5 separate regions of the Homo sapiens genome follow, and all the other regions are linked to region 3. Evidence: fine-mapped expression QTL. A gene starts in region 3. Each other region holds a variant in brackets. All regions are shown on one strand. Distances are between the middles of the regions.

Region 1 (5,000 bases), 24 kb after region 3:
TTGAACCTGGGAGGCGGAGGTTGCGGTGAGCTGAGATCACGCCGCTGCACTCCAGCCTGGCAACAGAGTGAGACTCCGTCTCAAAAAAAAAAAAAAAAAAAAAAAAAAAAATATATATATATATATATATATATATATATATATATATATATATATATATATAAATTTTCTTGTGTTTTCTTCTGAAACCTTGCTTTGCCTTTTACTCTTCTATCTAGTATTCATCTAGAATAGATTTGGTTGTGTGGTGTGTGTCAGAAGTCCTGACTTTTAAAAAATACACTTATCCAGTTGACTCAGCACCATTTATTGAAAAGACCTTTATCATAAATGAGATGTATATATGGATCTGTTTCTAGACACAGTATTTTTCATTTATGTATTTTTTGAGATGGAGTTTCGCTCTTGTTGCCCAGGCTGGAGTGCAATGTGCAATCTTGGCTCACCACAACCTCTGCCTCCCAGGTTAAAATGATTCTCCTGCCTCAGCCTCCCTAGTAGCTGGGATTACAGGCATGCACCACCATGCCCAGCTAGTTTTGTATTTTTAGTAGAGATGGGGTTTCCCCATGTTGGTCAGGCTGGTCTCGAACTCCCAACCTCAGGTGATCCACCCACCTCGGCTTCCCAAAGTGCTGGGATTACAGGCGTGAGTCACCATGCCCAGCCAGACACAGTATTTTGTTCCACTGGTATATTTGTGTGTGGTTGTGCTGATAGTGCACTGGCTCAATTTTTGCAGCTGTATAAACCTAGGTAGTATAAATCCTCCAACCTTGTTCTTCTCAATGTTGTTGGCATGGCTATTCTTGACATGTTATATTTCTATATGAATTTTAGAATCACCTTATCTACAAAAAAATTTTTAAAAGAGAAAAACATGGTGGGATTGCAGTGAATATGTGGAACAATTTAGGGTGAATTGGGTCTTTGTTGAGTTTCCAAGCCATGACATATGGCATATTTTTTCAATTATTCGGGTCATCTTTATTTTCCTCCTGTGTTTTAAAAATTTTCAGTGTTGGGTGTCTTTTACATCTTCCATTGGAATGATTTTATTTAACTAATTCATAGGTATCTGATATATTTTGATAATTTTATTTTGTTATTTTTATTTCAACATGTTTTTGTGGTAATTCTAATATGAACATCAATTCTTGGTTTTTGTAATTCGGTACTGGATTCACATACGTTATAGTTTTTCTGGATGCTGGACATTGTAAGTTTAAAAAATTGCATAAGCTCTAGATTATATCAAATTATATCTTTTTCTGGGGTTTATTTGTTCTTCTGTTTGGCATTTGAGTGGAGCCCTGATAGCCTTAATTCAGTTAGGGTCAAATCTGGATCAAGGCTGTATTACAGTTTGGGTAAGACCTCTAGTTTGCCCTGATTTTTGGGCATATTCTTCCAGGGTGTGTTCACTTAACCACCATCTCATTGGGTCCTAAAATCTCAAGAATACAAAGCCTTCCACTCTGATTTTCAGAGGTCTTCGGCTTACCTTTTGCCTTCCACACCTCATGATTTTAGAATTCAGCAAATGTCTTGAGGTAAAGCCAACCATGTGTTTGAAGCCCTTCAGGTCTTCCATTTTTTTCACTCCAAACCCCTTAGATGCTAAACGATCAGCTGGTTTCTCTGTCCTTTATTTGGGGCCCTCTGTCTGAGTCAGACTCACTTTTTTGGTCCTTTACTTTTTCCTGGAATCAGCAAATGCCTCAAGGGAAGAAAAGCTATAGTTTACCAGCTCACTTCCTAGCAATTACTCCTTCTCCAGATTCTTGGCTCCATCTGTTCTTGTTGCTTCAGCAGCTCTCTGTCTGATGCCTTTAAACAGATGGTACTTTTCTTGTATTTCATCAAGATTTTCTTGTTGTTGATGTGAGCGTTGATCTGTAACAGAGTATTTCATCTTAACCGGAAATGGAAATTTGCATTATTCTCCACCATTGCTCAAGTTCCTCTAGTGGGGCCTCACAGCTCAATATTAGGGGAAAAAATATTGAGAAAGAATTTAGAGTATTTCAGGTTGATTGATCATAAAAAAGAAACAAAATGAGTGATACCTAGGAAAATT[G/A]TTTGATTTACAGAAGGTTGCACAGCAGAATTATAGCTGCCACTCAGCCATTCCATTAAACCTGCGGTACTGACTATGTAAGATGCTTCTGTGTACAGAAGCTAGAGAATCTTTGGTAAGCAACATAGAACTCTAGGATTTAAGCTCTTGTCTGTGATCAACAATATGATGTTGAGTGCTTAGAATCTTGAAGTCTCAGGTTTATTTAAACTGATTATTTAATTGTAGTGGCCTGCTTTTACCTTCTCACCTCAGTTACCTTTGTTAACATTTGTTTGTATTCTTTTATGAGGCAACCTTGAATCCCATATGCAATGTATACAAGATGGTTCATTATTTCTTTTTAATAACAGTTTAACTTCTAGTAGTTACTGTGAATCAGTTTTAGCCTCTTAATCTCAGGATTTGGACTAAATATTATACAAAATTTATAATGTTAACCTTTTGTTATAATAATTTGTAAATTTCTATAAATTATATTTTCTCTAGTTAAGTATTACATCTTTTAATGAAAACTTTTGAATATTGGTTAATTTTTGTCCTCAATATTAGAACAAATGTAATCTAGAAAATTGACATTAATATATCAAAAACTAATCTGTCTTATAAGATTACTGAGAAAGTAATGAACACTGTCACCTTGGTTGTCATGTGGTGAACTGCATGTATTGGTTAATAATAATCATACATTTTCAGTCTTGATTTGACAAAAGCAACAAAGTATCTTTTCTCTCAATATAGGAAAGAATTATTCCATATTTATTACGACTGAGACAAATTAAGGATGAAACTCTTCAGGCTGCAGTTAGAGAAATTTTGGCCCTAATTGGCTATGTGGATCCAGTGAAAGGGAGAGGAATCCGAATTCTCTCAATTGATGGTGGAGGAACAAGGTAAGGCTAGGAACATGATTCTTTTTTTTTTTTTTTTTTTTTTTTTTTGAGATGGAGTTTCCCTCTGTTGCCCAGGCTGGAGTGCAGTGGCACAATCTCAGCTCACTGCAACCTCTGCCTCCCAGGTTCAAGCGATTCTCCTGCCTCACCCTCTCAAGTAGCTGGATTTACAGGCTCCCGCCACCATACCCGGCTAATTTTTGTAGTTTTAGTGGAGACAGGGTTTCACCATATTGGCCAGGTTGGTCTCAAACTCCTGACGCCAGGTGATCTGCCTGCCTTGGCCTCCCAAAGTGCTAGGATTACAGGCGCGAGCCACTGCGCCCAGCTGGAACATGATTCTTAAAAACTACAGATTCAATTCAGCTTTAGGAATTAAAAAAAAAAAGATTTGATATAAATAAAATCAAATTTTTAAAATAAAACATGAAATTGTTTTAATTAATACTTTATTAATCTAAGTGCTACTCTGACATATACTTCAGTTCTTTGGTTTGATTTGGTATTTATATTTTTGTATTTGATTTGATTTGATTTTAGTATTTATATTTTTATATTTGGCCTTTTTAGACCTTTTTGGTAGTTCAGAAGCTTATCAACCATTATTCTCATAAAACCTTGACAGTGTTTTATAATTTTAGCTTTCATTTATTATTTTATTTTTTTGGAGACAGAGTCTTGCTCTGTCGCCCAGGCTGGAGTGCAGTGGTGCGATCTCAGATCACTGCAACCTCTGCCTCCCAAGTTCAAGCGATTCTCCTGTCTCAGTCTCCGAAGCAGCTGGGATTATAGGTGTCCACCACCATGCCTGGCTAATTTTTTGTGTTGTAAGTAGAGACGGGATTTCACCATGTTGTCTAGGCTGGTCTTGAACTCCTGACCTCAGGTAAACCACCTGCCTTGGCCTCCCAAAGTGCTGTGATTACAGGCGTGAGCCACCGCGCCCAGCCAGCTTTCTTTTATTACACTTATCTTACCCATATATATCAACTAGTTACTTGATAAAGTGATGGTTACAAAATGAGGCTATATTAACTTCCTGACTTCTGATGTCTTCACTTGGAGATGCCAGTTCTGGTGCCATATAAGAAATAAATTCTTTCTTTGTTCAGAAGGAGATAATTTCACTATTAAGCTCTATTTTTACTACTGGCAATCCATCCATGCTTCCTACTCAGTCTTTGTTTATCTAGTTCCTTCCAACTTGTTGGTTAGATTTTTTGGCTTGGTTTTTCAAACCTTTTCCCCAAAATCTTCTAGCTTGTTCTCTAGTTCCCTGCCATCTCTACTGTTACCTTGTAATTCATAGTACATGCCCTGCCTATTGTTCTTAGGTTTAGCTTACCTCTCTGATTTTGCTTTTTGGTATAACCAACTTGCCAACCACTCTTCTGTATGTTCAAGTACTACCCTGTATCTTTTTGTTAAATTCCTTGGTTCTGTATTCACCCGAGTCCTTTATACTTTGACATCAATATGAAGGAAGGAATAAGTACTGAGAGAAGGAAGCTAACCTCAGATGGTGGCAGTGGAAGGCAGGAGGAAGGAAAAATGTACCAGTAACTTTTTTTTTTTTGAGACGGAGTTTTGCTCTGGTTGTCCGGGCTGGAGTGCAGTGACGTGATCTCGGCTCACTGCAACCTCCACCTCCCAGGTTCAACTGATCAGTTCTCCTGCTGTAGCCTCCCCAAGTAGCTGGGATTATAGGCATGCACTACCACACCCAGCTACTTTTGTATTTTTAGTAGAGACGGGGTTTCACCATGTTGGCAAGGCTGGTCTCAAGCTCCTGACCTCAGGTGATCCACCCGCCTTGGCCTCCCAAAGTGCTGGGATTACAGGTGTGAGCCACCATGCCAATATCAGTAACTTTTAAGAAACTCGGAGACAGGATATGGTAGACATAGGTCAAGATCACTCTAACAGTAAACCTGTGTGTGACTGGGACAAAACTGCAGGGAATCTCAACAGATTGGTGTTGAGGAAAGACAGTTCTTTCTTGAACATATTTAATATAAGATTATATC
Region 2 (5,180 bases), 110 kb after region 3:
GTAACTTGCAAAAGAAAAAAGAAAGAGAGTGAAAAAGAAAGAAAGAGAAGAGCAGAGAAAAGAAAAGAAAAGAAAGAGCCATCTGCCTAGTGTCCAGAGATTTAGAAGTTGAGTTCTGGACATCTGAATTAAAAAGAAAAAATTATAGCTCATTATGACATGAACTCCCAATCAAATTGCTGGAATATTTACCTCAGTTACCAGAAAATTATTTGTTTTCTTTCGCTAGGGTTAGGATGTTTGTCCCCTCCAAAATTCGCGTTGAAATTTAATTGCCTTTGTAACAGTATGAAGAGGTGGGACTGTTGAGAGATGATTAGGCCATGAGGGCTCCACCCTTATAGGTAGGATTGTTGTTATTATAAAAGGATGAGTTTGGCCCCCTTCCCTGTGTCTCTCTTGCTCTCTCTTGTCCTTCTGCCTTTTGCCATGGGATGACGCAACTACAAGGTCGTCACCAGATGTCTGCACCTTGATACTGGACTTCTCAGACTCCAGAATTGTGAGCCAATAAATTTCTGTCCTTATAAGTTACCCAGTCTCAGGTTTTCTGTTATAACAGCTTCAAACAAACTAAGACATCTCCATAGCAATTAAAATAGGCTACTGTTGGCTATTAGCTTAAAGGATCCTTAGAAGCACCAGTATTATTTGATCAAATGGAGGGAAGCGTGTTATGTTGCAAAAGCAGAGAATCATGAGACATTCAATCACTTACTCTTTAAGGGAAGATGGAAAACATTGAAATAAATGGTCAGTGACAACAGTAGCAACATCTGAAAAGTGATGTTCCCAAACTAGGAATCTCTCTGGAGAATATGTGTTTGTAATGTCCGTTAATTGCTCAGGGAAATGAACAGCATGGATCTGAAATGGGAGGGACCTGTCATAAATAGCACAACCTCTTCCAATGGTTTGCAAGAGTAGGTGCTGTTTGATAGAAGGGTTAGTAAGATCCATGAGGAACCTCCCTTAATTATGAATGGCAATAGTAATTAACAGGATGTGTGAACTGCTCTGCAGTGATGGAAATTTCATCTGAGTTTCCTTTCCTTTTTACTGGTTTCATTCTGCCTTGTTGGAGAAGGTCCCATGCCTTCAACTATACAGACATGAAATTCAAATCTTGAAAAGCATACTATAAAAACCCAAGTTTTTCCTTGGGGGTATTAGTCTGTCTAGTTAAGGAAGACTTTTTTTTTTTAATTATTTGTCTCTTTCCCGAAGTAGTAGGCAATTAGACATCAAATGAAATTAAAAATCCCTACATGATTGTCTCCTGGCCAGAACATGTTGCCTGCTGCCATAGAAACAGCTCTCTGATCTCAGCGGTGATGACAAAGCATAGTTCTGACAAAGCAGGTTCCTTTGCCACACGCCTGTGGTTTAATCTTTTCCTCTTTTCCCCCGTGAGGCAGTTCTGTCTAGCGTTGTCAACCATGTCAATTTTGCTAGAATGTCTCAAAACATCTGTAATATGCTGATTAAAATAGACACTATGATACTATAAAAGAAATGTGCTGTTTTTCTGCTGTCTCTATCCTACTCCTGGAATTGCATCTGCAGTTTTATTTAAAGCAAATGCAGCATTCAAATCTCCTGTAGTTATTCTTGCTCCATGAAGATGAATATCTTAGTCATGCTGATCTGGAGGGATGGGCTCACATCAGCAGCTGGCCCGTTCTGTCATGGAAGAATCACTCTTCTGGACTGGAAGAAGCAAGTGAAATGTTTCTGAAATGTTTGCAGCATCTCTCAGAGGAAAAGGGAACTTCATGACAGAAATAAAGCCAGAGAGGGCCACTGTGAAAAACACTGGAGGGTAAAAATAACTACATAAGAGCAACCATGTGGAAACCACGGAGCCCTCTCATCTCCTTTTTGGTTTTGTTTTTTTGTTTGTTTTTTGAGAGGGAGTTTTGCTCTTGCTGCCCAGGCTGGAGCGCAATGGCGTGATATCAGCTCACTGCAACCTCCATCTCCTGTGTTCTAGTGACT[G/C]TCCTGCCTCAGCCTCCCAAGTAGCTGGGATTACAGGTGCCTGCCACCATGCCCGGCTAATTTTTTGTATTTTTAGTAGAGGCAGGGTTTTGCCATGTTGGCCAGGCTGGTCTCAAACTCCTGACCTCAGATGATCCACCCACCTTGGCCTCCCAAAGTGCTGGGATACAGGCATGAGCCACTGCGCCCGGCCTTCTTCTCCTTTTTATGGGTAGAAATTAGGATGTAGGCCAACCATTTAATCAAGAAGCATTTATTATCTCTTTTTATCATGCTTCTTTCCTGCCATGCCCATTTCTCATTGCATCAGATCTAAGCCCCCTTTTGATGTTTTAGGAAGTCATTAAATAATGTTCCTGTCCTCCCTCCCAAGTTTGCACCATTTGAGAAAGACGACACAAAAACCAGATTGAAGGAGAAGTGCCAGCTTGATTATAGTTCAGGCTGACTGGGGAAGTGATTAGACGTGCGGCCACAGGGCTTCCAGGTACCTCCTTCTCCATTAGACATTGTCACCCTCAAGGTCCCACCGCAGGCTGTTGCTCACACAGGCAGGCCTGCCAAGGAAAGGTACCCCTGTTGTCAGATGGCAGATATGAAAGGGAAACCAGAAGGCTCAGGGCCAAGAAGACCTTGTTTCTTCCCCCAGATTCCTTGTGCTGTTGGCTCACAGGTGTGATGGAGGGTGTGGGAGAAGCTGGGAATATTATACTGCAACCTCCTAAGAAATGGAGTATTTTTTTTCTTTTTCATCTCTTCTGTGGTAATATGAGGAGTAGCAAATGCCCTTCACCTCCAAACCCCTCTGTCTTGCCTCCACAGCCCTCTGCTATGAACCCTGGACTCACCCTGCTGCTCCCCAGCAAGCCCCTCTGTTCAGGGAAACCCAATGTCCTTCAGGCTCTCCCTGCTTCTCCTTACCACGCCCACTGTTGTGGTTGTGCTGGCTTCACCAAGGTGACTCTTCTCCAGGGAACACACTCCCTGCAGTCTTCCCCCCTTCTCTGTCTTCCCAGCGTTTTTTTAAGCCCCTCTTCCTAGCAGTCTGCCGTGGGTGAGATCTGATGGTTTTCCTCTTCTCTGTGAATACTTTTTGTTTTATTCTGGGCCCTGTACACTGAGTGGTATCAAATGGCTCCCATTTTCTAAAACACTGAACAATTTGCCCTCTAATTACATTCATTCATTCCTTTGTCTTTTTCACTTATTGTTACATAGGTAGAGTCTGGCCTCCCCAGTTAGATTGTGAGGTTGTTGTGGACAGGATTCACTTCTTTTATGCCTCTTTTGTACCCTTTCTCAGGGCTAGTCTAATGTAGAGTGGAGAGTTTATGTAGATAATTGTCTTAGCCTGGGTTCCCTAGAAAACAGAATCTGAGCTCACTTGAGAAGGTTTTATGAGGAGATGGAATTCCAGGACAAAAATAGTGAGGGAACGGGGGAAGCCAGACAAATAATACCTAACAGTGCTTTGCCAAGCTGTCCAAAGCTTCTCAAGGAAATACAGCTGGTTGCTCTGTGACACACACTGTCTTGCAGACAGGTCTTTGGGATCACACTGTACTTTGCAACAGTCTGTCACAAGAAGGAATGGCAAGGAATTGATCTTTTAGCTCCTTCTTGTCTCCTGTCTCTTACTGGTCAAGGTTTCCGCATTAAGTTTTAAGTTCCTGTTTTCAGATTATGTTACCATGACCCTCTGATCAGCCTCTGGGAAAGCCAGATCCTATACCCCACAGCAGGGTGCTTCGTTGGAATGTAGAAGTGGTTCAAGAAGCCAGAGTCTCTATAATAGCAGCTACACAGGATGAGGGTGCAGGGGTGTAGCTCCTGCTGCAGTGTGGACATGACAGAGGCTGAGTCAGAGCCATCAGCTACAGAGAGGCTGAGACAGCTGATGGTGTTGGGAGAGAAGATGGTGGCTGTGGCAGGGACTTTACACTGAGCAAGCAGCCAGAGGAACAGTGTGGAGAGGGGCAGGCAAACCTGGGAAAGCAGAAAAATTGGACTCAATACAGCACCAAATGAATTTCTATTGGCTGGATAACTAAATATAATAAATGTTTGATAAATATTTATTGATGTCTGTTGGTTAATTGCCCCCTATATTCCTGTCTTACTGTACTTATTGGGAGATACAAAGGGAAACCTAAAAGCCAATTTAGACTAAATATGTAAGTGTTGAAGGATCAGAGTAAAGGAAGAATAAAAATGTGTGAGATCAAGGTAATTAATCAAGGAGGGCTTCCTGGAGGAGGTGAGTTTTGAGTTGTCTTTCAAAGGCTATAGTGGTAAGGATTTATAAAGAGGAAAGGGTTATTTGGAATGGGAGAAAATATTGGCAAACCATACATTTGATAAATGGTTAATATCCAAAATATATAAGGAACTGAAACAACTCAATAACAAGAAGACAGCCCAAATAAAAAAATGGGCAAAGCACCTGAATAGACATTTTTCAGAAGAAGACATACAAATGGGCAACAGATATATGAAAAAGTGCTCAACATACTAATCATCAGGGAAATGTAAATTAAAACCACAGTGAGATATCACCTCACACCTGTTAGAATGACTATTATCAAAAAGATGAAAGGTAGGAAGTATTGGCAAGGATGTGGAGAAAAGAGAACACTTGTTCACTGTTGGTGAGAATGTAAAGTAGTACAGCAATTATGGAAAGTAGTATTGTGGCTCCTCAGAAAATTAAAAATAGAACTACCATATGATCCAACAATCCAACTGGGCATATGTCCAAAAAAAATGAAATCAGTATCTGAACTCCTGTGTTCATAGCAGCACTATTCACAATAGCCAAGACATGGATCAACCGAAGTGTTTATCTATGGATGAATGGATAAAGAAAATGCAGTCTATATATACAATAGAATACTATATAGCCATAAAAAGAATAAGATCCTGTCATTCACGACAACATGGATGAACCTGGAGGACATTATGTTTAGTGAAATAAGCCAGGCACAGAAAGACAAATACCACATGATCTTACTTTCATGTAGAATCTTTAAAAAGCTGATTTCATAGAAGTAGAGAGTAGAATGGTGGTTACCAGGGGCTGGGGTGGTGGGAACGGAGGGAGGTTTGGGAGATGTTGGTCAAAGGATACAAAACAAGTTAGGAGGAATAAATTCAAGAGATCTGTTATAAAACATGATGACTAT
Region 3 (5,151 bases):
AAATCAATAATAAACCTTATAAATAGAATGAGCATAGCAAGTAACTGATACAGGGCAATGTGATGTCTCTTTTACCCAGCTTCCAAAGAATATAGCGTTGAACAATTACTGTATTTAGCATTATTTCAAGTATAGATGATTTCCTGAAGGCATTAGTCTGCTATTATACACAAGATAATCTCCAATTTTGCATACTACTGAATTTGTTTGAAATTAAATATAATTCTCTTTTGTCTCAAAACTGCCCAACATCAAAAGAATCATAAATGGGTTTTATTTTCCATTTTTAACTTATCAAACTAGTAATCTAAATGAAACTAAAAATCAATTCAATAATACAGAATTTTAGAGAGTCTACTATTTGTTGGATGTTACGCTAGATCCAGACAATACAGTTTACCTTACGCTCCTTGACTGCAGGAAACTGGCAGGCATATAAACAAATAAATTATAATACTGTGCAGCAAGGGCAATAAGAGAAGTGAGCACAGGTGGAAGGAATGATTCATTCTATGAGTAGTGAGGTAAGATTTTCCTGGCTGAAGGACAAACAAATCTTTAGGAGGACAAGGTGGAAGGGGAGCTAAGCCAACAGCATGACCAAGGCACTAAGTATGAAAAGGAACAAGAGTATCTGGGGAAGTACAGGTGTGGCTGGAGGATAGAGAGTGAGAGGCAAGTGGTGAAAGTAAAGGCTGGAAGGTCAGCAGGGTCAGAACCTATAATTTCATTCGGTATATTCTGTGAAGATGTACAGCCAGCAAAAGCTTTTTAATTCGGGAAAACACGATTGGACTTGCACTTTCAAAAGATTACCGTGGTTGCACAGAAGAGACTGACTGGGTCAGAGGTTAGTTACAGGCTGGAAAACCAGTTTAGATGAAACTGAAGAGCAAGGATGAAAGCCTGAACTAGAGCAGTGGAAATGCGAATGTGGAGCAGAGGAACGATTCAAGAAATTCTGCGGTAAAACTCATCAGACTTCATGACTGATTAAAGGTATGGTGGTAGACAAGGGAGGGAGAGGAAGGATAAGAATGGAGAAGCAGGAATTGGGCGTTATTTGAAAATTTCTGACATGGGAGGAAAATCTGGATATTTAATAACATCTGACTAAATTAGGGGATGAAAGAGCATAAGCGGAGAGGGAATGGTGGTGCTCTCTCCTTGACCATACTTTAGTTAGGCTCCTCTGAGCCCTCTTCCCAACTAGGCCTCATCCTTGGGCCCCTGTCTTAGGCCTGCTGAGTCCAGTTTTAGCAAGAATCTTGCAAAGTCAGTTTAGAGAGTATCTCCTAGCCTTGATAATTGATCATCTCCGCCTGTCTTCAGCAAGAATCTTGTAAGTCACTTTAACAAGAATATCCCCGACCCTTGATATCACTTCTTAGTAATTTTCCATGAACTGACCCCTCAGTCTGCTTGCTGGTTATAAATCCTAGCTGTTTTTGTTGTATTAAAACTTGAGGCCAATCTCTCTCCCCCATGGTGATAGTCATGGCACCTATTGCAATAGTTCTAAATGTCTTCCTTGACATTTTAACAAGTGTCAGAATAATTTTTCTTTAGCAACAAGGAGGAATCTGTCTCAAAAACTAAAGCTCCTTCCACACGCCTGTAAGGCTTAATTGGTGCATACATCTTTTAACTCTCCTGTAGCTAAATAACATGTCTGGCTTATCCACTGCTGGGGTTTACCAGGCATTATGATGTACATAATCCAGACACTGTGTCCCAAGAACATAGCAAGCTGGCTTTCCCTCCTTGATTTAAAAAAATCAAAACAACACAACTATCAGGGTAACATCCACTACATTTGACAGGTCAAAGAATCCCCTTCCTTAAGGACTTTACAATAACCTTACAGGGGGCTAAAGCATACATACCCATGGGTAGTGGGTAAGCCTTGAGAGTACAGTATAAGTCTTGATAACATTTTGAGGTTGATAACTAGTTGAAACTGATCTGTTTTCCCGACCTCAACGTAATTGCAAGGTCACTTCAAGAGGGTAAGGGGCTATTGCAACTACCCAAATTCGCTATTGTAGTATAAAAGCTTTAATTAACAGCATGTATAGGAATGCAAAGCTATGTTCTAATGAAACTTTAAAAAGCAGACACAAATATGAATGTCATATAATTGTCATCTGTCGCAAAACTTTTTTTTTAACCTTTGAAAAATGTGAAACCCATTTTTAGCTCCTAGTACAGCAGAACCTGCGGTGGGCTGGATTTGCCCTGAGGGCTGTAGTTTGCCCCTGTGGTACGTATGAAATGCCACAATTTTAAAAAGATGTGTTACGTGTGGGACCATTTGTGGGGCGGTTTATGCTAACTTCCAATACAGTAATATATGTCAACTCGCTTTTGAGTGACATTTAGTCTGGGTGGCCATGCCCAGGAATGGATATAGAGAAAGGGGCGCGGCCGCGCCGGGCACCACCCTCCAAGAGACTGGTATCGCAGCCCCCAGCTCCAAGGAACTCAGCGCAGGCAGGGGCTTCAGGGACGCGGAGAGGGAGGCTTATCTCTGCTGAAAGGGAATAGCGGCCCGCAAACAAGCAAACCAGGACACTGCTCCGAGGTCCCGCCCAGGAAGGCAAAACGAAGTCCCACCGCTCTCACACCCGGCAACCAACCAAGGCACAGCACGCCCCACCAGCAAGCCACGCCTCGCGCATCACGCACGCACGCACGCACGCACACACGTCTGTCGCGGCTTCCCGCCTTGCGCTCCGTCATGCTCTATTGCGCATATCTCGGGGCGGGGGAGGAACGGAGATTGACAAGGAGGCAGAGGCCTGAGCGAGGCGGAAAATCCTCACCCCGGCCCGCGGGTAGACCCAAACTTCTAGCGCGTCACTTCCGCTGGGGGCGGAGCGGGGCGGGGCTGAGTGGGTGGCGACCTAGCTGCTGCGCCAGTGTTTGTGTTGGAAGCTCAGCTGATGCAGGCCGGTTGGAGTGGACGTCATTGCCGGGAACGAGCGAGTCGCCGCTGCAGCCCTAGTGACTGCGGCCTGCATCCCGGTAAGTAGCCGCGAGGGGACAGGGGCGGGACGATAGGAGGCTGGTTGATCGTTCTGGACCCTTGTCCGGCGCTCCGGGTCGTCCTTTCTTTCTTTGGAGGGCACTTCCCGAGCGAGAGGGTGGGGACACGCCAGGCTTTGGGGAGGAGCTGGCGCTGGAAGGAGCCCGCAGGTCCTGGAGCTCATTGGTACTCGGCGCCCTCCGCCCCCGTGGGCTTTGCTGCCCCAGAAGCGCAAACCGTATTTGGTTTCGCAGGTCCCGCCCTGCTCCCCCTGTCCCATCCCCACGACTCCCTCCTCAATTTTCCAGAGTCTGTCTGCCTTCCCCTGGACTGTAGTGTTCTCCAGTAGTTAACTGGTCACTCTCAGGAGGGTTTCCCTAGTCTACATCATTCTCGACTGTCAGTGTGCACCTGGTGATTCTACTGCCTGATATTTTTTGTCAGTAATCTCTTTCTGACCCCATCCACATTTGATTCTATCCTTGACCGCTGTTGCTTAAGTGGATAAGGTGTATGAATCACTGTGTTGCAGTGCTTCCTATCCCTGTGTCATTTCTATCATTGTGCTGGAAGGAACCTGCTTTCCACGCCTAATACAATGATAACTTTAAAATGGTGACTCATAGGAAAAACTCAGGAGAGTTGTGACATAAGGGACTATCATATAATCCTGCTTAAAATACTGTTTTCAATTCCAAAACAGTTGTATCCTGGTTCTGCAGTCCTAATTTCTGAGAGTTCAAAAATGACAAATGTTTCAGTGTATTAAGAAAATGCTGTTAAACAGTGAAACATTAAGAGCTTATGCCTTGTGAGGCAGTTGTATCAAGCCCATTTTAGCTATTTTGTTAAATTGCTTATGCAAATTAGTTGTCCTTTCAATATAAGAACATGTTTTTATTTCGTAATTATAATCAACTTTTTCTTAATGTTGATCTCTTTTTTTATTTCTATATCAGGACTAAATTAAAATCTTGTAAACGCCCTTTTAATGAGTGATGTTGAATGAAAGGGCCAGTTTCACTAGTTTAGCTATTCACTTGTTTCACATGCAAAGTTGTTACAAGAACAGCCTGTACTTTGAGTTGTTTTTTTTTACCCCAGTTAGAGGGGTTGTGCTGAAGCTGCATATTGCTTCACTCATGGAATATATATTTGTAAAAAGGTCAGAGTTAGAATGCTGAGCCATAGACACCTTCCTGTCCTGCCATTTTTTGTTGTTGTTGGGAGTCTCTCTCTGTCGCCCAGGCTGGAGTGCCTTGGTGCGATCTCGACTCACTGCAAGGTTCAAACGATTCTCTTGCTTCAGCCTCCCGAGTAGCTGGGATTTACAGGCGTGCGCAACCACACCCGGCTAATTTTTTTAAGTAGAGACGGGTTTCCCCATGTTGGCCAGGCTGCTCTCAAACTCCTGGCCTCAGGTGATCCGCCCGCCTCGGCCTCCCAAAGTGCTGGGATTTCAGGCCTGAGCCACCGCACCTGGCCAGTCATTTCTTAGTTCTTATCTTTCTCTGCAGTACTCAAGTATTTTATTCTGTTCATTATCCATTACTTGAAAAAATTTGGTCCTGTCTTGGTTTTCAGTGTCCTGATTTTTTCAGGGTGGCTTTTCTCCTGTTTTGTTTCCTTTAGAGTCTTTTCTTCCTCTTCCTAGCTCTGGGTGGCACTCAAGGCTCTACCCCTGTCGCTCTCCCTAAACCAGAGTTTCGTGTTTGAAACCCAAATATACTTCAGTGGGCATGTGAATATCCTGAAATATTATGGAAAATATAGTTTGTATTGCAAATACACATTTTTCAAGGAAGAAAAGCTTTACTCAGGTTGCCTGATCCCAAAATAGTCATGTATTATTACTGTAAACTATCATCTGGTAAATACGTCTAATGTTGTGGTTTCTGCTGCCACTATGCTGGTAATTCCACAAGTAAATCCACAGTCTGTGTACATTTCCATTTGAATGTCCCACTGTTACTTCATCCTGTGAATCCAAAAGAAAATGTGTTTTTCTCTCCTATTAAATTGTCCCCTTCACAGTTTTCTCATATTCGCAAATGGCACTCTCCGTATTTTTCAGATTTAAAACCTTAGAGCTCTCTTAACACTTCCCTCTCTTTACCCCATTC
Region 4 (5,180 bases), 23 kb before region 3:
ATATTTAACATCGGGTAGGGGACTCCAACTGGGTCCAGCTAAGCCACTCTGCAACAGTGATTCTCAACACTCACTGTGCATTAAAATCACGTGGGAAGTTTTAGAAACTTTTCCTGGCCTGGGCTCCACTCTCAGAGAATCTCATTCAATTGGTCTGGTTTAAAGCCTGAGCATCTATATTTTTTAATGTTTTCCAGGTGATTCTAATGAACAGCAAAAGTTGAGAATCATTGCTGTACAGTGAAACTCAGGGCAAGACTCATCCATAGGTACAGAGTTTTTCACCAGCTTTTAAATGTTCTGTCCACTGATAGTCAACAGACAATTGAGAAGAGCAGTTAATAATAAAGATGTGGACGTCTTAGTCTATTTTCTACTGCTATAACAGAATGCCTGACGCTGGGTAATTTACAAAGAAAAACATTTCTCTGAAGGCTGAAAAGTCCAAAATTAAGGCGCCAGCATTTGATGAGGGCCTTCTTGCCACATCCTTATATGGAAGAAGAGTGAGAGAGGATGAACATTGTGTCCTCATATGGCAGAAGAGTGAAAGAGAGGGAACACATTCTTGCAAGCCCCTTATATAGTGACATTCATTCATTCATGATGGCAGAGCTCTCATGACCTAAGCACCTTCCAAAAAGCCCCACCTCCCAACACTGTTGCACTGGGCATGAAGTTTCCAACACATGCATTTTGGGAGACACATTCAGACCATAGCATGGCCCAAATAAATAAGTAAAAAACAGCAACTTAGCGAAAACAGATTATGTAGTCATAAGAAAACATAGGGGAAAGAACCCAACTATAGTTCATGTTCTTTCTGAGCAAAGGCTATATTGCATTTCTGAAAACAAAAACATGATACCTTTTAGAAAAGGAATATTATAAAAACGTAAAGAGCTCTAGTAATTTAAAATGTTATAAATGAAAAGTTAATAGGAGAGTTAGAAGATTAAAGTTGAAGGAATCTCCCAAAAAGTAGAACAAAAAAAGCCAAAAGATAGAAAGGAAGAGACCCAAATAAGAATTGTGTCCCCTGAAAATTCATGTGTTGAAGCCGTAAAGCCCAGTACCTCAGGACGTGACTGTATTTGGAGACAGGGCCTTTAAAGAGATTAGGTTAAAATGAGGCCATTAGGGTGAGCCTTATTGCTATCCAACTTAGGTCCTTATTAGAAGAGAAAATTCGGACATACAAAGAGACATGAGGGATGCAAGGGCATCCTAGAAAGACCATGTGAGGACACAGAAGAAAGTAGCCATCTGTAATACAGGGAGAGAGACCTTAGGAGAAACCAAACTTACTGATACCTTGATCTCAGAACTGTGAAAATAAATTTCTGTTGTTTAAGCCACACAGGCTGTCCTATTTTGTTACATTAGTCCTAGAAATCCAATAGATCCAGGAGACTCAATATCCACATAATGGGCATTTTAGAGAATTGTAATAGAAAAAAAAATGGAGCAAAGAAAATAGTAACAGAAATAATGCAAGTAACTTTTCTGGACCTGAACATGTATTTCCAGATGGAATGACCCATTATGTCCTGAGAACAATGGGCAAAAACAGGTACTTACCAAGGCACATTATTTTTTAAAGTCAGAGCTATAAATATAAACAGAAGATTTTACAGACCTTCAGCAAGAAGAAAAAAAGACACAAAGGGTCAAGAATAGAGTAGCTCCAAACTTCTTAGCTACACTGGAAGCAAAAAGTAAAAAGAAAGATTAATAATCTGAAAATTCTGAAGGAAAAACATAGAATTGATTCTGTATATCCAAGGTCTCAAAAAATTGCCTCCTCTGGACCCTTTCTAAGGAAGCTGTTGGAAAATGTATTCTAGGGAAATAAGGCCATAAAAGAAAATAAAAAAACTGTTTATCTTCTGGAATGATTGCCTAGATGATAGTTTATTATTCAATTGATCTAGAGATGAAAATAGGAAAAAAGGAAATTCAAATCAAGAAAGAAGCAAAAGGAATTCCAAGCTGGTGGTGAAGGAAGGGCCCCAATACAACGTTACTAGAGAGCCACCAGTCCAAATGACAACAATAGGTCTGGAGGCTCAGAAACATCGAGTTCTTCAAATGAAACATAAAGTTCTTCAAAGATGGAAATCATTAGATTAACTAATGTGTTGAATATCTGGAGAGGAAACTCACTCATCTGGGGTAGAATTTAGGGTTAAATTAATGATAAAGCACAGAGAAAACTATGCAAAGAATCCAGACTAATATTGACATGAAATGTGCATGGAAGATCAAACTGTCATTTCTTCATACATAACTGCATTTACATGGTCAAAATAATGTAAATACAATATAACCACTTACACAATGTATATTGGGAAGATAGAAGGTAACATAGAAGGGTGTGTGTGTATGCTCATGTTTGTGGTTGGGTCAGAAGCAAGGGGTAGAATGACAAGGTAATTAAACAGAGCAAATCCTCATCTACCATAGTGGAGTGTCAAAAAGACAGTGCCTAAATCCAAAACTTTAAAAATATAGGTCAGATGCAGTGGCTCACGCCTGTAATCCCAGCACTTTGGGAGGCCGAGGCGGGCGGATCATGAGGTCAAGAGATCGAGACCATACTGGCCAATAC[G/A]GTGAAACCCCGTCTCTACTAAAAATACAAAAATTAGCTGGGCGTGGTGGTGTGCACCTGTAGTCCCAGCTACTCAGGAGGCTGAGGCAGGAAAATCACTTGAACCCGGGAGGTGGAAGTTGTAGTGAGCTGAGATCCTGTCACGGCACTCCAGCCTGGTGACAAAGCGAGACTCAAAAAAAAAAAAAGTACTTGTGTGTGTGTGTGTGTGTGTGTGTGTGTGTGTGTGTGTATTAAGCATGTTATTTTGAGAAATATAGGTAAATACACAAAGAATCTGCAATATGATTAGAAGCGGTTGACTCTGGAGAGCAGAAAATGAACTAGGACTGCAGGCTTTTGTTTTGTTTTGTTTGCAATAAGGCTTGTAGAACACTGGGTTTTTAAGAATATGTGTAAGAGCTATGGGCTCACTCCTATTCATCCTTCAGGACTGATATGGTTTGGCTGTGTCCCCACCCAAATCTCATCTTAAATTGTAGCTCCCATAATTCCCATGTGTCCTGGGTGGGACCAGTGGGAGGTAATTGAATCATGGGGGAGGTCTTTTCTGCGCTGTTCTCATGATAGTGAATAAGTCTCATGAGATCTGATGGCTTTATAAAGGGGAGTTCCCCTACACAAGCTCTCTTGCCTGCTGCCTTGTAAGACATGACTTTGCTCCTCATTTGCCTTCAGTCATGATTGTGAGGCCTCCCCAGCCATGTGGAACTGTGAGTCAATTAAACCTCTTTCCTTTATAAATTAGCCAGTCTTGGATTATGTCTGTACTAGCAGCATGAGAACAGACTAATACAAGGGCTGACCTATTCGTTATTTTATCTAGAAAGCCTTCATTTGCCCTTCCAGATAACCTTCATATTTAGTCTGTTAGCTCCTTTTACTTAATCCTATTATCATTTCTATCATCCAGTGTCATTATTGCTTCTTTACTTGTTTTTTTATCCCCAAAGTATAAGCTTTTTATGAGCTTTTTAGCTTCATTGTCTAGCACAATTCCTAGTACAAAGTCAGAGCTCCATAAATATTTTTCAGGTGAACAATAGCACCTACTAAGCCATATTTCAAGAGCTGTTTTGCTGGGTCTAATTCTGGCTCCACATTGAGACAGTCAGCATATAAATTAACCAATTTGCAGCTCCATGAGTATATTATTGTCCCATTATTCAGGCAGGTCCTGTTAAATTATTAACTTGAATTGTAGTGTAAATAATGCTACTTTAAATCTCTCCTGGCATGTTATAACCAGTACCTAGAAAAGGTGCAGTAGCATTCCCTCCAGGGTTGGGGACTGGACCATGGGAGGCTTTTAGGAGGCTCATTGGATCCTCTAAAATTTAATGCAAAATTTCATGTGCATAGGCATTTTTCACAATTTCTATTAAGATTAAGAAAGGGATAAATTACCCCTCAAAATTTAAACACCACTGCTCAGGGCAATAATAGCTTACATCTTACCTTGTGCCATTCTTTAGAGAAACAAAAGCTCTTTACGTATTTTATCATCTAAAAACCCTGAAACATAGAAATGGAAAATCGATTATTCTAGACAGGTTAATACACAAACAACAGCTCAACTATGTGATTTTAATTAATCAGGAATAGAACTAGGACTAAAAGAAAAAGTGTCCCATATCTAAAAGCAGGCTTGATAAACTGTACACAGAATTCTTACAAATCTTAGACGAATACTGCCTCATAATTTTAGGGAAAATAACTTTTAATGTTCAAATTACTATATAGAATATCAGAAAATAAATTTAGGGATTAAGTAAGTATTCTTTTGGATCGCTGGAAAATAATATGTAAGTTCAAGTCTTGCTTTTGGTTACAGAAATATAATTCAAAATGAGAAGCAATGGAGTAGGAGCTAATTTCAGAGAGAACCTAATCTTTAGTTTTATTCAGTGCATGGTTCATGTTTTCCATTAATAAAGATGTGTGGTGTTTAAATATGCACAATGAACTAGAATATTATAAATGTGAAATGAGGTTAATTTCATTGAGCTTGCTACCTTGGTTAGTCTAAATGAAAATGAATTCACTGGCATGAGACTAGAATGTACCTGAACCACGGATGAAAAATAAGTTAATCCGTTCATCAGTGTGGTATTAAAAGATGAGAAAGAATTTTTGAGGGAGTAGAGAGTGACAGATGACGGACACTATACAAATTGTTCAAACAATTCCCAGAATGTCATTAAATAAGAAATGTCTATTCCTTTTTTGGAACATTAAATAATATGCTCAAGAAGCATTTGTTTTGCCTTGTTAAAACTTGGTGCTTTGAAACACCCTTCAGCATATCAACTTCCAGTCCACCTGGATAGTTTCCTTAATTTGGGAAATGATAAAACACAAAGGGAAAACAATGTTCCTTAATATAGGAGGGGCATAGAGCTGGGATCCAGCTCCGATTTATTTTATTACCAATGCAAGCGAGACTGAAACATCTGGTTTGCATTGGTAATATAATTTAGTGAGGAGGTAGAAGCACATTACTAGGTATCATCACAGTAATGTATTTCTGAAGAGTACTGTAAACAAAGCTTTTTAATAAAAAATAGAC
Region 5 (5,000 bases), 40 kb before region 3:
TTGAACAACATTAACCACCATTTAAGATACGTGAAACCTGCGAAGTGGAAAGGTGCACGCAAAGTTAATTTACACCCCCCGCGAGGTAGGTCGCATAGGTATAATTTCATCCCACTTTTCTCCTGAGGAAACTGAGGCCCGGAATGATTAGGTAACCGACCTTGAAAGTTTAGTGTCAGAGCCAGAATTATAAACTAGTCTTCTGCTTAGGGCTGTAGATACTCTGCGGAGAACAAGGTTTTATTCTGTTACTCTGAATTACTAGAGCCACGATATATTTCCATCAAACTACTGAAGCACTGATTTTTATTCAGAAGTACAGACAAGCAGTGTCGTATAATAATTAGGGGTCCAGGCTTCAATGCTAGATCCTGGTTCCACTATTCTGTAGCTTAATGACCTCTTGGAAAGTATTTAAGCTTTGGTGTCTCACATATCTCATCTGTAACATGGAGATGTTAATAGTACTCACATGATTAATAACACATGAAAAGCAACATATTTAAAATACTGCATTTCCATTTTTTCTTGTATTTAAAAACAATTCATTTAGATCTAACCTGGTTCAGATTTTCAGCAGTTGTTTTGTGCTCATTTTACTTTAGACCTGAAGGACTTATTCATTAATGATTCGGCTGCTTTCCAGTATTTTAATTAATGGAAAAAAAATTGATAACCCCACCAGGCGCGGTGGCTCACGCCTGTAATCCCAGCACTTTGGGAGGCTGAGGCGGGCAGATCACCTGAGGTCGGCAGTCTGAGACCAGCCTGACCAACATGGAGAAACCCCGTCTGTACTAAAAATACAAAATTAGCTGCGCGTGGCGGCGCATGCCTGTGATCTCAGCTGCTCGGGAGGCTGAGGCAGGTGAATCGCTTGAACCTGGGAGGTGGAGGTTGAGGTGAGCCGAGATCACACCATTGCACCACAGCCTGAGCAACAAGAGCGAAACTCCGTCTCAAAAGAAAAAAAAACTGATAACCCCAAGTAATTCACAATCCATGGCAATATTTCCAGGATTGTCTCCCTTGAAGCCCAGCCTCAAGATGCAAAGAGATGTTTGGGGGAGGAAAACAATCTAATCCACTTTCAGTTTATAGGGAAATACTACTGTACTAATGGCTCTATCTCTGAGAATGTTTGTAGCAAAAGATCATGTTGAACTTGATTTAACCCCGTATTTCCCAGATTTATTTGGCCTTTGATATTGGAGATGGGGTATAACCCCACACTGAAATTTTTAACTAAACTTTGTGGACCTTACAGTAACTTTTTAGGAAGGAAAAAATAATGCAAGTGAATTGTAAAGATTTTTTTCACTGAAAATGTGAATTTAGTAAAAGTTGTATTATTTCTAGGGTTTTTAAAAAATTTTCTTGTGTAATCCACAAAATAAAAATTGAATTAGTTTTATTCTCCAGTAGCGTCAAACTTGAATTGAATTTGCTCATGTTAACACTACAGCAAACTGTAGTTTAAATGTATATGAATTTGGGAATTCAGTTAATATAGTGTCCAGTTTGTACTGTGATTATCTTATGCCTTTTGGGGAATTACATAAGACAATGAAACAAAATTATCAAATGAATTGAACCAATATAAAGACATAATTTATTCAGGAAACATGATCAAGATTTCTTAGAGATTTACCTATTGAAGCAATACAATCCAGTAAACAATAAGGATATTCACAAAGTTTTTTTTAATGAGTTGATAACTTAGCATATAGGTACAATGGAAATAATTTGCAAACAGCATCCATATACATGAATTTACAGTAAAAAGCATTATTGTAAAAGGCCTATTCTCATTTCAGTTGTAACAAAAGAAATGAATTTACCAATGGCCAGAAGAAGTCAGGTCCTCTAAAAGAAAATTTGTCTGCCTTTAAAATTCCTTTTCTGGTTATGCTTGTCATACTTACAACCTAATATTTGTAAAGTTAAAATATTTTTAAAACATGATTAATATTGCTTCTGTGGTTGGAATTTCCAAAGGTAGTTTATCTGATTTTTTTCCGTATGAGGATATCAGGATTAAAAGTTATATCTTACAGAGTACCCAGACTTTCCATGGCATCTTAAAAAGTTACCAGAATTTAGGGGGAAAAAATGATGCTACTACAAAACATAAGCTAAATGATTGGGATTGCGGGAAGGGAGTGTATAACAGCTACATTTTATATGAGAAACCTTATATTGTTACTATTTTTAAAAACAGGAAATTATGTGGTGTCTTGGACTCTGTTCTTGGAAAAGTACCAAATGGAATATAAACCATTTTCAAATATTGTTTTGTATACCTTGACCCAAACCTTTTTAGATTGATAGGAAAAATTTTCTATCAAATTCTGCCATACACTGTAATGTTAGCACCAACTTTAAATCCAGGTTATTGTCAGGTACAGGAACAAAATGTATACAGCGCTGTCTTGCCATTTGTATTTGATTTGTTTCATATAAAATATCTGAGACTGTCCCTTTTAACAT[G/A]TTCCATTCTTTTCTTCTATCAGTTTCTCCTTCAGAACTTGAAATTTGGAGTTCCCAGTTCATTGGTTATAGAAGTGTAGTACTATTAGACTAGATTACTTATAGATAGAATTAAAGATGATGCTAGTAAAGAGAATATTTTCAGTACTTTTTCAGCTAAATCATTTGTTTGAAATAACATCTTATTTTTTAAATATTAAATAAGATTGTAAAGCTTAATACTGCCTTGAATTATAGACAACAAGCCATTTGACATGTGGTGGTATTATGAAATACATTTGAATAGGAATTTATAATTTATACAAACCTTTTTTCTAGTTCTAGGCAAACTGTACAGCAATATAAAAATGGAACATAATCCATAGAAAATACAAATAGATTTTGTCCTTTATAGGAACACATATATTTTACTTGAAGGGACTCTGAATTATGTTCAGCTCTTATCAGATAAGAGCCTTGGCTACATGTCTTACATCTTAGGCCTCTTACTGCAGAGATGATAATGGTACTAGTTGTCATGAAGATGCTCTTATTTGGTAGGGATGGTTGCCTTCCTCTTGTAGTACTTACTTGATGCATAGGTTACCCAGATATATAGGGTGGGAATTTGGCAAAATTGTAAAAATATAGCAAAGTTTTTCCTTTTTTCTTCTTTTTTTTTTAAATTCCAGATTTCCTCTACATGACAAAGAAAGACTGGAAAAGTGGTTAAAGAATATGAAGCGAGATTCATGGGTTCCCAGTAAATACCAGTTTCTATGTAGTGACCATTTTACTCCTGACTCTCTTGACATCAGATGGGGTATTCGATATTTAAAACAAACTGCAGTTCCAACAATATTTTCTTTGCCTGAAGACAATCAGGTATTGCAGTATGGGAGAGGGGTAATGCTGAGCAGAGTGGCAGATTTCAGGGTGGCAGGTGATCAGGTGGGAGAGTAAGAGGGAACTATAACTTGGGTAAACAGATACTTGGAAAAAAGGGAGCACTAATTTGTGCTTTTACTAAAAGTGATAATTAAAAAAAATTAAACTCATGAAGCACAGCTTAAGAGAAGCAAGAGATATACATTATTAAGTTATTAACACAAGTTCATGAGTTTTATTTTTTATACTTTTTTTGTTTGAGACAAGGTCTCATTCTGTCACCCTGGCTAGAGTGCAGTGGTGCGATCTCAGCTCACTGCAACCTCTGCCTCCTGGGTTCAAGCCATTCTCTTGCCTCAGCCTCCTGAGTAGCTGGGATTACAGGCGCCTGCCACCACGCCCGGCTAATTTTTGTATTTTTAGTAGGGATGGGGGTTTCACCATGTTAGCCAGGCTGGTCTTGAACTCCTGACCTCAGTTGATCTGCCTGCCTTGGCCTCCCAATATACTAGTCTTTTGAATGATCTGAAATGTTTCTGCCGTATATTGAATGGGATTAATGCTTTTTAGAAAATACTTTAAGGTATATATACTCTGAGCTTTTTTTTAACTAAATAAATTTGCTTGGCCAGTGTACTACTCAATATTATAATTAAATAGCACTAGCATAATAAGCCAATAAAAGTCATCTTTTTCAGAACATGAAAATATTATTTTCTAGGGAAAAGACCCTTCTAAAAAAAAATCCCAGAAGAAAAACTTGGAAGATGAGAAAGAAGTATGCCCAAAAGCCAAGTCAGAAGAATCATTTGTATTAAATGAGACAAAGAAAAATATAGTTAACACAGATGTGCCCCATCAACATCCAGAATTACTTCATTCATCTTCCTTGGTAAAGCCACCAGCTCCCAAAACAGGAAGTATACAAAATAACATGTTAACTCTTAATCTAGTTAAACAACATACTGGGAAACCAGAATCTACCTTGGAAACATCAGTTAACCAAGATACAGGTAGAGGTGGTTTTCACACATGTTTTGAGAATCTAAATTCTACAACTATTACTTTGACAACTTCAAATTCAGAAAGTATTCATCAATCTTTGGAAACTCAAGAAGTTCTTGAAGTAACTACCAGTCATCTTGCTAATCCAAACTTTACAAGTAATTCCATGGAAATAAAGTCAGCACAGGAAAATCCATTCTTATTCAGCACAATTAATCAAACAGTTGAAGAATTAAACACAAATAAAGAATCTGTTATTGCCATTTTTGTACCTGCTGAAAATTCTAAACCCTCAGTTAATTCTTTTATATCTGCACAAAAAGAAACCACGGAAATGGAAGACACAGACATTGAAGACTCCTTGTATAAGGATGTAGACTATGGGACAGAAGTTTTACAAATCGAACATTCTTACTGCAGACAAGATATAAATAAGGAACATCTTTGGCAGAAAGTCTCTAAGCTACATTCAAAGATAACTCTTCTAGAGTTAAAAGAGCAACAAACTCTAGGTAGATTGAAGTCTTTGGAAGCTCTTATAAGGCAGCTAAAGCAGGAAAACTGGCTATCTGAAGAAAACGTCAAGATTATAGAAAACCATTTTACAACATATGAAGTCACTATGATATAGAATAACT

Which allele goes with the higher level. Positions count from the first base shown, and alleles are read on the strand shown. Sizes are in standard deviations (SD) of each study's normalised expression. Not every link is listed here.
For the expression in monocytes after interferon gamma of the gene that starts at base 2,921 in region 3, C is the low allele of the variant in region 2 and G is the other (large effect, 1.2 SD a copy in Fairfax 2014).
For the expression in monocytes of the gene that starts at base 2,921 in region 3, allele A in region 5 goes with a higher level than allele G (large effect, 1.9 SD a copy in Quach 2016).

The links. PIP is the estimated chance that this variant, and not a neighbour inherited with it, causes the effect.
Region 1: its variant is the best candidate, but not a certain one, in a credible set for the expression of PNPLA8 in whole blood (INTERVAL, PIP 0.69).
Region 2: its variant is the best candidate, but not a certain one, in a credible set for the expression of PNPLA8 in monocytes after interferon gamma (Fairfax 2014, PIP 0.70).
Region 4: its variant is the best candidate, but not a certain one, in a credible set for the expression of PNPLA8 in monocytes after R848 (Quach 2016, PIP 0.55).
Region 5: its variant is the best candidate, but not a certain one, in a credible set for the expression of PNPLA8 in monocytes (Quach 2016, PIP 0.76).

The regions. Positions count from the first base shown.
Region 1 is chr7:108,500,464-108,505,463 of GRCh38, reverse strand. PNPLA8 (patatin like domain 8, phospholipase A2) reads left to right here. Exons shown (of 11, transcript NM_001256007.3): 5 at 2,822-2,973. Among named protein-coding and RNA genes, the nearest start is that of PNPLA8, 23 kb to the left of the region's middle. The variant G/A (reference allele first, on the strand shown) is at 2,081.
Region 2 is chr7:108,412,611-108,417,790 of GRCh38, reverse strand. All of the region lies in intron 1 of NRCAM (neuronal cell adhesion molecule), which reads left to right. Among named protein-coding and RNA genes, the nearest start is that of NRCAM, 41 kb to the left of the region's middle. The variant G/C (reference allele first, on the strand shown) is at 1,999.
Region 3 is chr7:108,523,905-108,529,055 of GRCh38, reverse strand. It overlaps PNPLA8 (patatin like domain 8, phospholipase A2), which reads left to right and starts at 2,921. Exons shown (of 11, transcript NM_001256007.3): 1 at 2,921-3,027. It overlaps LOC124901722 (a long non-coding RNA gene), which reads right to left and starts at 2,581. Exons shown (of 2, transcript XR_007060473.1): 1 at 1,411-2,581. RefSeq lists enhancers at 2,303-2,642, 2,933-3,052, 2,824-3,784, 4,464-4,999.
Region 4 is chr7:108,546,753-108,551,932 of GRCh38, reverse strand. It overlaps a transcript of THAP5 not described here. Among named protein-coding and RNA genes, the nearest start is that of THAP5, 20 kb to the left of the region's middle. The variant G/A (reference allele first, on the strand shown) is at 2,612.
Region 5 is chr7:108,564,184-108,569,183 of GRCh38, reverse strand. THAP5 (THAP domain containing 5) reads left to right here. Exons shown (of 3, transcript NM_001130475.3): 2 at 3,162-3,354; 3 at 4,079-5,000. The coding sequence ends at 4,993. Among named protein-coding and RNA genes, the nearest start is that of THAP5, 3.0 kb to the left of the region's middle. The variant G/A (reference allele first, on the strand shown) is at 2,491.